2 separate regions of the Homo sapiens genome follow, and region 2 is linked to region 1. The links come from fine-mapping of genetic effects on gene expression. A gene starts in region 1. The other region holds a variant in brackets. All regions are shown on one strand. Distances are from middle to middle. Region 1 holds the start of SCIRT (stem cell inhibitory RNA transcript). Region 2 holds the start of LINC03040 (long intergenic non-protein coding RNA 3040).

What was found.
Region 2: its variant is fine-mapped to the expression of SCIRT in left ventricle (GTEx, PIP 0.98). The same link has a PIP of 0.9 or more in atrial appendage, prefrontal cortex and testis.

Annotation. Positions count from the first base shown.
Region 1 is chr6:44,070,445-44,078,767 of GRCh38, reverse strand. It overlaps SCIRT (stem cell inhibitory RNA transcript), which reads left to right and starts at 4,116. Exons shown (of 5, transcript NR_125864.1): 1 at 4,116-4,271. RefSeq lists enhancers at 3,036-3,105, 4,226-4,485, 5,506-5,605, 5,646-5,705 and silencers at 4,996-5,255, 5,346-5,425.
Region 2 is chr6:43,994,416-44,002,738 of GRCh38, reverse strand. It overlaps SCIRT (stem cell inhibitory RNA transcript), which reads left to right. Exons shown (of 5, transcript NR_125864.1): 2 at 1,623-1,696; 3 at 2,024-2,148; 4 at 3,231-3,521; 5 at 5,431-7,016. It overlaps LINC03040 (long intergenic non-protein coding RNA 3040), which reads right to left and starts at 2,154. Exons shown (of 3, transcript NR_160956.1): 1 at 2,039-2,154; 2 at 612-686; 3 at 1-58. LOC124901321 (a long non-coding RNA gene) reads right to left here. Exons shown (of 2, transcript XR_007059591.1): 2 at 3,185-3,788. RefSeq lists enhancers at 1,898-2,047, 8,322-8,323. The variant G/C (reference allele first, on the strand shown) is at 4,608.

The DNA of each region.
Region 1 (8,323 bases):
CTGCCACGTAGAGGGATATGGCAGGTGACAACCCTGTCTGGCTCTGCTAATCAGGATCCAGTAAGAAGCTCAAGACAGGTGGCCACTCTGCTGGTAGGCAGAGGAGGGAGCTGTGCTCCCTGGGGTGGGTAGAAGTAAGGTTTGTGTGGGTGCTGGGTGTTGGACACGGGCAGGCTGCAGACATAGCAGCAATGAGGGGAGACTCTCTCAACCTGCCCATGTCCTCCTCTGAGCAATCTCCCCGCCCCAGAATTATTTCAGTTTCCTCATCTGTCAGTTCTAGGGGTGGACTTCATTCATTCAATACTGTGTCCCTGACCTCTGCTCCCTGCCAGGCTCTGAACTAGTCATGTGTCAGGCTGGATACTTAGATGGACAAGACAAGCCATCCCCTGCCCACAGCTGCCCCACCTGAAGTCTAGGCCAGTGACCTCCGAAGTTTTTTTGATCATGTGCCCTTAGCAATAAAAAAGATTGTTGAGTACGCACCCGTCAGATGAGTATGTTTTTATATAGTTTACCTTGTAAAACACACTCACACTAAATGAAAAAAGGATTCGATGAAAAATAAATAGGCATTCTAAAACTTTCTTCCAGTACCCCTGAACCACGCACACATATGGCACTTGGAACCCAACTGCTCCAGGAGCTGGGAGGGTAGGGTCAGTCCAGCCATACTCAGGACGGATGTGTGGTCAGTGTTCCAGAACATCCTTGCCCACCCCTTTATGCCCTAGCAAAGGAAGGGAGAAACTTCAGATACAGCAGGTGGGAGTGTGGGCAGATGGGAAGCGTAAGCAGGTTTATGTCTGAGGAGGCAGACAAGAGGCAGGTTTTTATTTTAGACTGTGATGTTGAAAATTTTGTGATCACTTTTTACACTGTCCCAGGACATACAGAACCAAGACATAGTGTCCCAAGTAGTATCTAATTTCATATACTTTAGGTAGTTCTATTCCATTTCCAAAGGTTTAGAATACCGCCCCACCTCAACCCCCAGGAAACTGGGGAGCACTCCCTCCACTACACACACTTGGGACACGAAGGACAGACCCTGGTTGGGGAGGCACTTAGGTGTCCCTTCCTTAGGGGCTTTATCTCTCACTTCCCCTCCTGGGTTGGAGGCTCCTGTGACCCCCTCGCCTGGGCAGGTCCCCATGCAGGGTAGAGCACTTGGAGGCCTCTGTAAACATGGGTTACAGGAGAGAGGGGGCAAGAGGCCACAGCTGGGGTACATAAGGAAACCCCTCTGTGGGCCCCCTTACTCAGAGAAGTCTCAGGAGAAACCCTTTCCCCCACCCCCAGTCCTGGCACCAAGCTGGAGAAAGACAAAATGGCTTGTGAAGGCATCTGTCTGCCCTCCAGGGTGGCTGCCAGGGGGGCAGCCATGATGGCTGGCCTGGTGTGGGTGCCTTTGTGTGCCATGACTGGGTGTCTGTTTCTGCAGTCACTAGGCGCTTGTTCTGTGGGGTGAGGGGTGTGGGGGTGGGGGCACGGCCTATGGCAGGGCACGTACGTGAGGCTGGGCACGAAAAGCCTCACCCACCTCCTGCCAGGTACAACCAGCTGCTGGGGCCAACTGCCGACCGCCTCCTCCCTTCCCTGGGCACGGCCAGGCCGGGGGGCAAATGACTTGGCAGGCACCTCCCCTCAGTTGGACCCACTAGGGCAGGGCCGGCTCACCTGGGGCACAGGCAGGGCTCCTGGCTGGGTGGGTGTTCTGCCAATCCCTTCCCCAACTCCTAAAGTGGGAGGGTGGTGGTGAGGCCAGGGAAGGGGCGCAGGTCAGAGATATGCCCCCTCTCCTCTCCCAGACTGTGCATGGGTAAAGCAGGGCAGAGAGGGGCTGGTGGAGGGGCGGGAAGTTTCTCTGTTTAGGGCCAGGAAATGATTTCCATGCAAATGAGATGCAAACTCCTTAATGAGTTTGCAATTAGGAGACCAAGGCTGCCAGGCCGGGCAGCGCCTGCAGGTTTTATGAATGGGCCAGCGTAGGCGGGGGGGAGGGGGCGCGCCGGCCCGCCCCCACATTTCCCTGCCGCGGCGCCCGCGACATGCCGCGCCGCACGTTGCTGCCTCCAGGCCCCGCCGCGACCTGGCCCACCGCCAGCGGGTCAGCTGCTCCGGACGGCGCGGGAGGCTGCCGGCCAGAGTCCCCGCCACGCCGCCGGCCGGCGACGCAAAGGAGCCGACGACACTCCCCCTGGGGCCCGGCAGGGGCTCTGTCCTCGGGCCCCCTTTTTTCCCGGTTATTGGAATGATTTCCCGAAGCAGGAAGGCCAGAAGTTAGCCTTCAGGCCCCGTTGTATTTAAAATGGGCTGCCCTGGGACTTCACTGACCAAAGGAGGGGGCTGGGCCCCTAACTTGGGTGACAGCAATGACCTTGGGAGGGATGGAATTATACGTGACAGGAGAGGGACCAGTTCCCATCCCAGAGCTCCTTGCACCTCTCCAATTCCCTCATGCCAGTCCACACCTCCCTAACCTCAAAAGGCCTGTTCCCACCACCCCAGGGCACCTGCTTTTTCTGCAGAGCCACCCTAGTCCACTTTGGGTCTTGCTCTGACCTGGGGCCCAGGAGAGGGTCTCCTAAGTGGGTGGGTACACACAGGTTTGCTGTGGTCCAGAAGGAGGCTGACCAGAGTTTGAGAGTTTGAGCCCAGTTAGGTCACAGCCCCCTACCTCCTCCCCTCCCCTCTCCTCCCCCTGTCCCCGCCCTGCCCCATTGCTTTCAGAGTAAATTAACTAATTACCTCCAATTAAAGCACCTGGCTCTCTGTATCCTCCTAGGCCTTCAATCACTGCTTCTGGGAGTCCTCTTCATCCAGGCAGGGTCTGGAAGGGGGCCTGACCAGTAAGTTGGAAGTCAGTGAATCAATGAAGTGGGGCGGGGAAGACAGGATGGAGGAAGCCCACAGTGCCATTTACTGCTTGGGAGTGGTCCAGGCAGCCAGGACCTCTGACTTGGCCAGCTTGCAGACTGAGGTTGGGTCTGGGGACTTGGGCCCTAGGGGGGCCTGTGAAGGCTGGGAGCAGGAGCTGCCTTTGGAGGTTAAGTCCCTGGTGAAGGGCCTGTGCAGATGTGTGCAGATGTCAAGGCCCTGAGGGTGACCCTAGAAGCCCCTCAGCAGGAGAAGCAACTTGAGGGTCAGGTCCTAGAAGCTAGCAGTTCTTGGCACCTGCTGCCTCCCTCACCCAGCAGGCAGGGAGAGACTCCAAATGCCTGTAGGCCCAACCAGTCCCTCCTGTCTTTAACCCCAGCTGGCTCCTCCTGCTGCTCAGGAAGTGAAAACCCCTCCATTCTTTTCTCCGGGCCCCCTTGGTGGCCCCCAGGCACAGGCCCAACACTAGCTCTGCCCAGCACTGTCCTGGCCCACCCCACGTGTAGGACGTGATGGGGAGGATACCTGGTGGCAGGAGGCAGACTGATGGATTGTTGACCTGGGTCTCACCTCTGGACGAGCTGGCCATTCCTGGGGACTGGGCAGGGTCACGCCAGGCTGTGACTCAGGCCCCTGCCCCACCATGCCAGGGACCTGGGCTTGGGCCATCCTCTGTGTATGTGGGGTGGGGTGGAGCAGAGGTTTGTCAATTGGAGGCTTCTCTTTGGGGACACCTCTCACAGCCCCAGGGAGCCAGACTATGACTAGAAGGATCAGGGTTTCCATGGCTGCTCCTCCCCACCCACCACCCCAATAGAGGCTGACAGGAAGGACTCCCAAGCAGGGCACAGCAGCCATATGAGTTAGTGGGTGTATGAGCCATCCAGGACAGGGGTAGGGCTCAGCACACAGGAAGGGCCACTCCTGGGGTGTCCTGAGCCCCTATCTGCCAGCTCGGCTTGTCTCCCTAGGCCCATGGAAAGCTGGCTCAAAACTCCCCACCTCCAGGAAGGCGTCACCATGCCTCGCTTGTTTGTGGCCAGCCCAGCGCTGCTCTCAGCTCCCACTTTTCACTTGTTTCTCTGCCTCTTGTCCCCTTTCCCAGATCCACCAAGCGTCTATGGGCAGACTGTTTTTTCCTGCACTTCCTAGTGGCCAGCAGAGGGCGCCGCCAAAAGACTGAGGCCACCACGGAGGGAACAGGAGAATCGGCTTTTTGGGGTCTAGCCACTGTGCAGAGCCCAGGCGCGTGGGTCGGTGTCGGGTGTGTGTGTACGTCTGTGTGTGTAATGAAACTGGACGCCTTCCTTCCCGGCGATCTTGACTTAACCTGTCAGCAGAGGGCTTGAGGTTAGACCACAGGTTGAACCTAGGTGGCTGCTGGAGAGGTAAGCCCAGGTGGCTCTTGGCAGGAAGAGGAGGATGAGTGAGTTGCTCCCTTCTAGCAACCCAAATGGGAAGGGACAACGGAGGTTGCCAGCTTTCCTCCCTGACCCTGGAAGAAGGGTTGGGAGGGGTTGCACAGAATAGCTGGTGTCCCACCCTGTGGGAGGAACTGCTATGGACATCTGGGCCACATCTGGTTTCCTGGCAAGGCAGGGAGCTGGTCTGTTTGGAATTCTTGGTCCACCGCTTGGTGGTCCCTCACCATTACATTCTAGGAGGACCCTTTACAAACAGGTGTATAGGGCGCAGCCCTGTAATGCGAGTGAGTCCACAGCAACCTAGTCGTGGTCACACTCCTTTGGAAGTGGCCCTAGGGGCCTGGGCAGCAGCCTGCTCCTCTGCGCCACTCGACCTTTCTGTGGCCATGTTGGAGTCTGCATGCTGAGATGCTGCCCTTTCCCCTTGGAAATGCTGGGAAATGTGCTCTGGTGTCCATCCTGGCCATGCCTCTTCCTCCAGGTGGGGTAAGAGATGAAAAGAGGAGTTAGTCTGCAGTACCTCTTAGGGACCCCACCCCATGAAAGGCGGAGTGGGGAAGTGCTTGCTGTTGGGTCACCTCCACGAAAGCTTGGGAATGCGGTTGGGACGGGTAGCGGGAGGAGGGGTCAGCAGGAGTGGTTCTTTCTTGGGTCTGGATTCTGGGTTTTGGGGACGAGACAACACGGAGGAAACCCCTCTTGGTCGGCTTGGTTCCAGGAGGCTCAGGCCGGGAGATGGCCGTAATGGCCTCGCAGAAAGAAGCGGGAGCGGGGGAGGGGGAAGGCTGAGCATCGAGCCCACCCGGACTCTCCCTCTGTCCTCCCCGCTGCGGGGGCCCACCCCTTCGCCCCCACCCCTCTATCTCCAGGGCCGCCGCGGCCCCTCCCCGAGACCTGGGCGCCGCCTCCCCCTCCCCTCCTCCTCCCCCTCCCACCCAGCGCTGCAGCTGCTGCCGACGGACCATTCTGCACGTAGCGAATGGAGGAGACGCACAAGGGAGGCCTCAAGTGCGCGCGCGCGGGAGCCGGAGCGGCGCGGGCGGGGGAGCGGCTGCGGGCGCGCGTGCGCGTGCGGCGCCGGCTTTGATCGCGCGCGCCGAGCTCCGGAGCGCGCTGCTCTTCTGAGCGCCGGGGTTGGGGATGCTGGGCGGTGAGCCTCCGTACCCTCTCCACTCCGCGCACGCTCTGTTACCCCTCCAGCAAACCCCGCCTCCAGCCAGGACCCTTTTCAGTTGCCACCCCAATAGTACTGTCCTCTGCGCGTAGTAGGGTCTTCTGTTACGGTGTGCCGGGTGACGGATTGTACAGTCAGCCAGGTCCTGGGCTAGGGTTTCACAGAGTTCAGAACATGCCCGTGTTCATGACCATATAGTTTCACTTTTGCCCCAGGATCTCTCAGCCTGGAGGCCCTCACCCGCCTGCCTCTGCTGCACCTCAAACCTAGGCAAGCCCCATAAAGCCCCTTATAAGGGCTTGGGAAGAAAAAACAAAGGAGTGCTTTGACTTTTATTTCCTCTGGGATGGGGAACTCCCAAGGGAGTTCATTTCCCTTTCACCCCCTCCTATGTTACCTGCACAGCTCCTACTCCCTGGGGTGTCCAGGACTCTGCTGGGCCCTGCCCACACCACTGACAAAGGTGTGGTATGGTAAGCACAGAGTCTGCGTCCTGGGACAACCCAGGGAGTACAGGGAGGCTGTGTCAGGCTATGGCAGGCAGGGCCTTCATCTTGGAGGTGTCTCCTGACTTCCAGGGGCACTCTCTTCACTTCCTGAATCCCTGATCAGGAAGGGGATTGGCAAGTGGCTGGCCTGCCACCTGGGCCACTGGCAAGTGGGTGGCCGGGGGGGGGGGGCTGTCTTCCTTCCCTGGATGGGCTACGTTGGCACCTCATTCCACCTTCCTCACTGTGCATCCTGGCTCTCCTGGCTAGGTGGGCATTGGGCAAGACAGGTGACAGGGCCTTGCAAAGGGATGTCTGAATAGGGTCGGTGGTGTTTTGAACCTCCCTGTGGGAGTGAACTGAAGGGGACTGGTCTGTGGAATGTGCAGGTGGAGGTAGCTGAGAGCTCTTTGTCACGTACTAACTTAAACTGGCCCCAGTTGTTTGACCCCTCTGAGCCTCAGTTTTCTGTGTAATGGGAGTACAGCATTCACCCAGCGGGGCTGTTGAGGATTAAAATATAATCTGCCTATAACATGCCTCATATGTTGGAGGCATGTATGAGGTAAACCTTTTTTTATTATTGTGTTTGAACTGGCTGAAAGTCTGGGGACATTTCCCTCAGCTTTGTTTCCATGGATAGAGTGAATTCAAATCCCGGAGCTGGCAGCTCCTTGGAATTTGAAGGTGGGCTTTGAGAAAACTGTAAAGAGGCCAGTAACATGTCATGTTTATGTCACCATCCAAGAATGAACCATTTCATACTAGTTTTCCAGACATTAATATCTGAAACCTTAAAAAGAGATATTTTGGATAGGAATCACTAGTGGATATTACACGCTTTCCGGGCTTTTAATCAGAGGTTACAGAACATGTGAGTCTTCATGACTCAGGGTTGTGGTTACAAGGGTCCATCAGTATCCTGGTTGTAATACAGTGAAAATCCAAGGCCTTTTTTGGCCCCACACCAACGGCTCATTCCATGAAGGCTACATTTTCGTAGTTCTTGTGTCTACTTTTATAGTACTTTATCACTTCATCAACTCTCTCCGTATAAACTATCACTTCTGTTACCATCACTTTGCCTGCCTCCAGGGCAGACCACCAAACCCACCCTATTCTCAACTTGTTTCTGTTTGGCTGTGGGCTGAGATGTCCGAAAATCACATCTGTTGGAAGATGTGAAAAACAACGAGATCTTTTGAACTTGACAAATTATATTAAAGTTCATCTGGAGAAATAAACATGCAAAAAGAGCTTGGAAAATCCTGAAAAAGAAGTATTATAAGGGACGACTAGTGCTACTAAAATGTTGTAGAAAGCTCCAATAATAAAATAGTTGGGTACTGGCACAAGAACAGACAGGCAGATCAAAGGAGCAGAGTAGAGGCCAGACACACACCCGTGAACAAATGGAAATTAAATATATGATAAAATGACATTTTAGATCAGAGGAGAAAAGATGAATTATTCAATCAAATTGGACAACTGGTTAGCTGTTAAGGGGGAAAAAAAAGAAATCCAGCTCCCCACTTCATCTCTTATTCTGAAATAAATCCCGATGGAGTGAAGATTTAAATGTAAAAAGGAAACCATAAAATTACTAGAAGAAAACATCTGAAAGTCTAAAAGTGTATGTTCTTGGATTGGGGAAAGTTTGACACAAAACCTAGGAGTCACAAAGGGAAAGAATTTTTTAAAATTGGCTGTATTAAAATATGACGTAGGGTGTTGTGTTACATGCCTGTAGTCCCAGCTCCTTGGGAGGCTGAGGTGGGAGGATAACTTGAGCCCAGGAATTTGAGGCCAGCCTGGGCACCACAGTGAGACTCCATCTCTGAAAAAAAAATGTGTTTTTAATGTAATATCCTGAATTCTAAAGACAACCGTCTGGAAAAAATATTTTTAACATAGATGACCGATGAGTTTTTACAAGTCAATAAGGAAAATAAAAACGAATAGAAAAATGGGCAAAGCACATAAACCGGTAAGGGGATACTAATGGTTAACAAGCAGGTGAAAATGCTCACCCTCAGTCAAAATAGAAGAAATCAAAATGAAGACATGAGAAGATTCTCTTTTCGCCAATTTGATTGACAACAACTAAAATGGGCAACCCCTCACTGTGTGGACACAGACATCCTCAGAGCTGGGGGGGAGGACAGTTGCACCTGTGAAGGGGATTGGCAGTATACATGAGAAGAATTAATTCACAAACCATGGACTCGAGGGTTCCATATCTAGGAATTTATCAGATGCACTGTTATAAATGTCACAAGTGTTCAAAGTATACATACAAGTGTGTTCATTGCAGTTTTGCTTCCAAACCTGAAAAACTGGAAGCAACATTAAGT
Region 2 (8,323 bases), 76 kb after region 1:
GACATCCGGGCCAGCGTCTGCACCCAGCCACGTGTCCTGCCCCTGGTGCGCAGGTGGACTGGAAAAGAGGAAGGCAAACGCAGTGGCTAGGCGGAGACCTCCCAAATCCCACGTCTCCCCGAGAATCCCCGACGGGCTACAGACCTAGGGCAGCCATAAGAAAAAACGTCAGCTACATCTCGAGGGAGTGGGGTGGAGTGCGGGCGCTTGCTCTAGTCGAGCCCTGACATCGATTCTGCGGGGGCGGGGAGGAGTCGGCGCGGGGCTGGGGCTGGGAGGGGAGTTTATTTATTAGCCAGATTAGCCAGCATTAATGGGGGAGCGGTGGCGGCCGGCGGCAGCAGGGACATAGCTGGCATAGCTGGCATAGCGGCGGGGCCTCCTGCGGCGCGGGGCTCCGCGGCTTCAAAGGGGCTTAAAGAGGCCCTTGGTGGCACTGCCACGGCCCCGCGGGGGAGGGCGTGGGCGCGGGCGGCGGGGGAGAAGGCGGCCATTGTGCACCGAGGGATTAGGGCTCTGGCCTGGAAGGAATTTTAAACTGCCGCGAGCCGGAGCCCCAGGACTCTCCTCCTGCCCCACCCCTGCCCTCCGGAGCACGCTGAGGTGTTTACCTGCTTTCCTATGTCTGGGGTGGAGGGGGTGTCCTCTCTCCTCCCTCAAACTGGAGGCACCTAGGGTTACCAGATCTGGCAAATAAAAACACAAGACTTCCAGTTAAACTGGATACTTTAAATAGTGTAAGTCTGTCCCAAATATTGTATGGGACAGACTTATGCTAAAATATTATTCGTTGTTTATCTGATATTCAATTTAATTGGACGTCTTGTATTTTTTTTCCTGGCAGCCCTTGAGGCATTGAAATCTCTAATCCATGTCTGGAAACAGATTGATGGTTCCCGAAAGTCCAGTGGGTATGCCTCATTTGAGAGATCCCTAAGGGCAGGGTCGTGTCTCTCCCCTTACACTGGGAGTTTCCTGAAGCCCAGATACTGAGTTTCACCCTAAAGAAGGCAGCTCTGAGAGCACTATATGTGTCCCCCGTCAGACTGGGAGCTTCCTGAGGACAGGGGCTAAATTTCACCCATGAGAGTAACGCTTCAAGGTCAGTGTCTGTGACCTGTGACACTGGGGTTTCCTGAGGCATGGTCTGTCCGCTTCCTAGAGGGCAAGTCTCTCTCCTCCCTCACGTCTCACTCTCCCACCCCCACCCCACCCCAGGCTGCTGGAGGCTCCTCCTCCATTAGTGTTGCTTCCTGCCCATAGGGGGTGCTAGGGGCCCAGCGGACTGGCCTACGGATGGATGGGACCTGTTTATTGGGACTCGGGGCTTCAGTCCTTCGGGGTTGATGCACTTGAGAATAATGAGGGTGGGGTCCCCAACCTGTGAGGCTTGCTGAGGCAGTTGAGGGCCAGGTCTACTGGGGCCAGAGGCGGTGGCCAGCATGTGGGAGAAGCTCTGGGTGCTGGGTACCCACTGTTTCTTCCAGGAAGGGACAGTGTGGCCCTTGGTACAGAACATCCTGCCCACCTCCTCTCATAACCATTGAAGCCAAGCCCCAGTCCTCCACCAGCCTCTCCAGACCCCACTGCCTAACCTTTGCTTGTGCTGTTCTTTCTGCCAGAAACACTCTGTCTTCCTGCTTTGAGGACAGCTGAAGTCTTGCCACTTCTTCTGGATGCTCTGACCATCAGTAAGGTGGGCTGCTTGTGCCTGGGGGTCTTCTGGTGAAAAGAGCCCTCCATCTACTCCCTCCTTCCTCAACAACTTTGGCCACAGGGGCCAAAGAGGGGGCCAAGGTGGGGGAGGGGAGAGACAGGAACATTGGGGGAGCATAGGCAGAAGGGGAGTAAGAATAGGAACCTCCTTCCCCCCAACCCATCCCCCTGAAGCCCCTTCACAAGTCCCTTCATCCCCTCAGGGCCTCTGAACTCTTTCTCCTTGAAGCTGAGGGAAGCCCTGGAGAAGCGCTTTCCCACGGTCACAGCCTCAACAAACCCCTGCCCCCTTCTCCTTTGACTGCAGCCACCTCAGTCTCACCCTCCGCAGAATGCAGGCCCACTCCGTTGCTGAAGGGCCTCCTCCTTGGGCCAGGGCGCCTGCTTCTGCCAGTGGCATCATCACCCCACTCCTCAGCCGCCAGTCATCAGGTTGGCAATTAGCTACTTCCTCTCAGCTGCATGAGGCCACCAAACGTCACAGCCCCTCCCCTGGCCTGCCGCGGCGGGAGTGCTGGGGGCTGCCCCTACCCTTTGTAGTCAGTGCCAAGTCCTGGCTCAGTCCCCCTTCCCTACAACCTACTGAGTGCTAGGGTAATGAGCCTCCCATCTAGGGAGCTGAAAGCCTCGCTGCCTTCTCCCCGCTTCAAACCTCCTCCCCCATGTCACCCTATCCCATTGGGTGAGGACACTCCCGCTGCCTGGGTGGGGTGATGCCTGCTCAAGGGCACTAGCAGCCTGGGTGGGGCTTAAGACTCAGGTGTCTCTGTCCCCAGTCACAGGCGGTTTTCACCAGCCCCTTACCTGGGGCCCAGGAGTCTGAACTGAAGATGGTGGCAGTTATTTGGGAAGGGGAGAGAAATGGGGACTCATTCTACAGACCCCCAAACATGCAGGGGGCAGGCCCTTCATGAACACCCACATGGGCTCATTTGCCTGTGTCTAGGCACACACACGGTTACAATCTAGGCAATGTATGCTCCACTGCACTGTACCCACATGTGCCCCAGGTGGGCAAGTAAGCCCACTTGCCCAGATACCTCTCATGCCCACACATCCCTCCTCCAGGTGTGTGCATGCAAACTCACTGACATACAGTACTCAAAAAGGCAGTGAGCTTGCTGCCACACCAAAAACAAAACCGGGACCCTACAGAGGAATCTAGAAGCATGGGAGGGAAGGAGAGACCACCCCAACACTCGCTACCCCACAGACCAGGGAATCTTCCTGGGGAAGGATGGGAGGAAGTCTGCACTTCAGGGATATGTGTGGGGTACGCAGGTGGGCCGTGGTGGAAGCAGTTGTGTTGGAGTCTGGGTTGGGGGTGGAGGATGTGGATTTCCAGAGAGAATTGAAAAATTCCAACACATATAAACAAAGGCATGTGATCTTAGGCAGATCACTTAACTTCTTGGGGGCCCCAGTGACTGCATCTGTAAAATGGGAATAATGAGAACACCATTTAAACTTGGTTGTCAAATTTATTTTATTTTTATTTATTTATTTATTTTTAGAGACACGGTCTGACTTTGTTACCCCGGCTGGAGTGCAGTGGTGCAATCATGGCTCACTGCAGCCTTAACCTCCTGGGCTCAAGTGATCCTCTCGCCAAGGCTAGGATAAGTAGCTAGGACTACAGATGCGCCCCATCACGCCCAGCTAATTTTACAACTTCTGTAGAGATGGAGTGTTGCTGGGTTGCCCAGGCTGGTCTTGAATTCCTGGGCTCAAGCGATCCTCCTGTGTCCGGAATTGGTGGGTTCTTGGTCTCACTGACTTCAAGAATGAAGCCGCGGACCCTCGCGGTGAGTGTTACAGTTCTTAAAGACAGCGTGTCCAGAGTTTGTTCCTTCTGATGTTCAGATGTGTTCAGAGTTTCTTCCTTCTGGTGGGTTCGTGGTCTCGCTGGCTTAGGGGTGAAGCTGCAGACCTTCGCGGTGAGTGTTACAGTTCTTAGGGCGGCGCGTCTGGAGTTGTCTGTTCCTCCCGGTGGGCTCGTAGTCTCGCTGGCTTCAGGAGTGAAGCTGCAGACCTTCGCGGTGAGTGTTACAGCTCATAAAGGCAGCGTGGACCTACAGAGTGAGCAGTAGCAAGATTTATTGCAAAGAGCAAAAGAACAAAGCTTCCACAGCGTGGAAAGGGATCCCAGCGGGTTGCCACTGCGGGCTGGGGCAGCCTGCTTTTATTCTCTTATCTGGCCCCACCCACATCCTGCTGATTGGTAGAGCCCAGTGGTCTGTTTTGACAGGGTGCTGATTGGTGCGTTTACAATCCGAGCTAGACACAAAGGTTCACCATGTCCCCACTAGATTAGCTAGATACAGAGTGTTGACACAAAGGTTCTCCAAGTCCCCACCAGAGTAGCTAGATACAGTGTCGATTGGTGCATTCACAGTGCTGATTGGTGTGTTTACAAACCTTGAGCTAGATACAGAGTGCCAATTGGTGTATTTACAATCCCTGAGCTAGACATAAAGGTTCTCCACGTCCCCACCAGACTCAGGAGCCCAGCTGGCTACACCCAGTGGATCCTGCACCAGGGCTGCAGGTGGAGCTGCCTGCCAGTCCGGCGCTGTGCGCCCGCACTCCTCAGCCCTTGGGTGGTGGATGGGACTGGGCGCCATGGAGCAGGGGGTGGCGCTCGTCGGGGAGGCTCTGGCCGCACAGGAGCCCACGGAGCCAGGAGGAGTCTCAGGCATGGCAGGCTGCAGGTCCCGAGCCCTGCCCCGCGGGAAGGCAGCTAAGGCCCGGGGAGAAATTGAGCACAGCAGCTGCTGGCCCAGGTGCTAAGCCCCTCACTGCCCAGGGCCGGTGGGGCCTGGCGGGCTGCTCCGAGTGCGGGGTCTGCCGAGCCCACGCCCACCCGGAACTTGCGCTGGCCCGCAAGCACC[G/C]CGCGCAGCCCCGGTTCCCGCCCGCCCCTCTCCCTCCACACTTCCTCGCAAGCTGAGGGAGCCGGCTCCGGCCTTGGCCAGCCCAGAAAGGGGCTTCCACAGTGCAGCGGCGGGCTGAAGGGCTCCTCAAGTGTGGCCAAAGTGGGAGCCCAGGCAGAGGAGGCGCCGAGAGTGAGCGAGGGCTGTGAGGACTGCCAGCACCCTGTCACCTCTCACTCCCCCAAAATACTGGGCTTATAGGCAAAAGCCACCACACCTGGCCTGATTGTGAAATTTAAATGAGATAACCCGGCTCAGAGCAGGCCCTGAGTTGACATTACTATGAGGAGACCTTCCCAATATCCTGTCGCTTGATGGTGGGCTTGCCTAAGAGAGCTGCCCTAGGGAGATAAGAAGCCCTCATTCTGGACCTTACCTGACTGCTACATGCTCCCCCCGTTTTTCTTTGATTTCTGGGGTCCAGCCCCAGCCAAGGTGCAAGATACAAGTTGAGAGGCATGGCAGGGCATAGGGATGGGTGATTGGGTGCTACTTTGGACTAGGCTGGGGGTGGGTCTAGGGAAGGACTGGCTACCTGCCCCGCCCCTACCTGGCTGGCACAACAGGTAACTGAGTGCTGACTTTTATTCCTGGGAAGGGAGGAGTCAGGCAGTGCCTCTCTGTCCAGGCAAATGGGATGCAAGGGTCAGGAGCATGGGTGGAGAGGGTTTCTAGGAATATTCCTGAAAGAAGACCTGGGAACAGGCACTGCTGTCAGGAGCTACTGCCTGGGCCTACCAGCCTGTATCCCAGCTCAACAAACATCCTTGTCCTTGTTTCTCAGAGTCTGTATCCACCAGCTACTCTTCCAGATTCATGAGGCAAGGCCTGCCTGCTCACCTGGCTGGCCCCAAGCACCTCTTCAACCTGTTGCCACCGTCCTGCCTTGCTGCCCTTCTCAGCTCATCCAGCAGGGTCTCCAAGTCGTGGAAACAGAAGCACATATACACACATGCTCATATGTACATGCCCACAGTCACATAAGCACACCGAGAAACACCATCGCAGACATGTTCTCACAAGCACATGTGCATAACACTCACTACCCCTCACGCGTATACACATTAATACACACACTCATGCACACTCAGTCTTACACACACAGACACACAGCCATAATCACTGTTGTTGGTTGAATTGTGCCCCCCCATCCCCACCAAAAAGATAAGTTGGAGTCCTAACCCCCAGTACCTGGGGATGTGACCGTAGTTGGAAATAGGGTGTTTGTAGATGTAATCAAATTAAGATGAGATCTTACTGGATTAGAGTGGGCCTTAAATCCAGTGACTGGTGTCCTTATAAGGAGAAAAAGATTTGAAAACAGAGACATGGAGACACAGAGCAGAAGGCCATGTGATGATGGAGTCAGAGATTGGAGTGATGCAGCTATGAGCCGAGAAATACCAAGGTGCTGGCAGCCCCCAGAAGCAAGGAGAGAGGCAAGGAACAATCTCCATCAGAGCCTCTGGAAGAAACAGACTCTGCCAACACCTTGATTTCAGACTTTTGGCCTCCTTCACTGTGCGAGAATACGTTTCTGTTGTTTTAAACTACTGAGTCACCAAGTCTGTGGTACTGTGTTATGGCAGCCCCGGCAACAAATCCAATCACACACACACACACACACACACACACACACACACACACACACACACACACAGCTGGCTCCAGGCTCAGTGATGAGCTCAGAGGAGTTCCCCTTGGGAGCTGCTCTTTCTCTGTCTTCCTTCCTTAGTGATTGGTCCAGTGGATCCACAAAAGCTCATGGCCCAGAGCAGGAGCCCAGTCATTTTTAATTCCTCTTCCCTGGAGTTCTTAACCATGCGTTGCCCTCAAAATCTGCTCTCAAGATTTGGGTTGCCATATTTAGGAGCACCAGAAAACATACAGGAATGCTGTGTCTGCTTGCATCATATTAATTAAAAACTGGAAATAACCTAAATGTCCCAGAATAGGTACATAAACTGTGGCATATCCACTTAATGGAATACTACTCAGCAATACAAAAGGAAAACCTAGTGTTACTTGAGCAACATGGATGAACTTCACAGACATAATATTGCACAGCACGAGGCAGACACAAAAGTGTGCATATGCTATGATTCCATTTACATGAGATTCAAGAACAGGCAAAGCAGATCTATGGGGATAGAAGTCAGAATAGTGGTTACCTCTGGAAGGTGGAATTGACTGGGAGGGGCTTCAGGGAACCTCCTGGGGTGCTGAAAACATTCTGTGCTTGCACCGGGTGGTGGTTATGTGGGCATTACATAAAATTCACCAAGCTGCACCCTTAATGATTTGTACAATTTGATGCACAAATCTAACATCTCAAGAAGAATAAATTTTACAAAGTACCTAAGAAGCAAATGACCAGAAGCCACCGGACTGTTTTCTGGGGGCATTTATAGCTAGAGTCTGGGCCCTCTAGGCCCTCTGTCCCAGGGACAGAAAGCCTTGGTCCCTGGGACAGCCATGTGTGGTATCATCGTACAGTGCATGTGGGAAGGAATTCCACTCTTCAGTTGTGACAGGGCTGGACACACACACACATGTATACCTCTTGGCAGCTTCCCATCCTCATTCACAGTTGCAGGTTTGAGAGGGTATATCCCCCAGGTACCCTGAAGCCAGTCTCTGAAGCTGTCGAGGGTCCCCCAAGTCAACAGACAAGTGGTGGGGGGCAGGTAGCTAGTGAGAGGAAGGGGGAGCCTTCCTCCCCGCTTCATCCATAGCTGTGGAGTGAACTGGCCTGGGGTGGGTGGCTGCAGGGCTTGCCTTGACCCCTGCTGCACTGGTGTCCTCAGGCCTGGGGCCTCTTGTATGGCTGACTTTCCATAATATTTGTTGACTATAAATGTCCAGCCTGGGGCTGCCTGGGAAGGCCAGGTGTGTCAAGACAGCCAGACCATCACGACATTAGTCTTTGGGAGAGGACTGGGAGGTACACAAGATCCCACTGCAACTGGCTTCTCCAAAGAAAGACTAAATGCGATGATTTCTTCCACAAGAAAACTCCAAATGAAAAAGAATAGCTACATTTTACTCAGGTTTTGTGATCTGACTGGCATGAACCAAACATCTTTGAGGTGTGTGGCCATGTTGCCATTACACAGACAAGAAAACAGAGGCTCTGAGATATTGAGTAAAACCCCCAGGGTTACACAAGAAACTCAAGAGAGGACAAGTAGCATGATAGTTCCTTCCGACTGGGGGTCCCTGAGGACAGGGCTGCATCTCCCCTCAGACTGGGGCTCCCTGAGTAAGGGCTGTGTCTCCCCTCAGTCTGAGCCCTATCTAGGAGGGGCTTAGAGGAGGAGCTGACTTTGAACCTGCCTTCTTTTGCATCCACACTGGTCTCCTGGAGAGTCTTGGAGGGGCTGCTGACCTGGCTACCCCTGCTCTTTCTCACCCTGGCTGTCACCCCTAGTTCTAGCCTAGGGCTCTGCCTACAGGAATGCCATAGTGTGGGGCCATGGTTCTGACCAAGAGGGAAGTGGGGGAGGGTATGCACCAGAGGAAGCTGTCCCTTGGTGGCCATGCTAAGATCAGTGGGATGTCCCTGCAGCTTCCCTCCCTTCCTGACCAGGTCCACTGGGGGTCAGGACCACCCAGCTGATCCATGCCAGAGCCACACTGAGCAGAGGGCTGGCTGGACCCTGCCCTTCCCAGGAGGA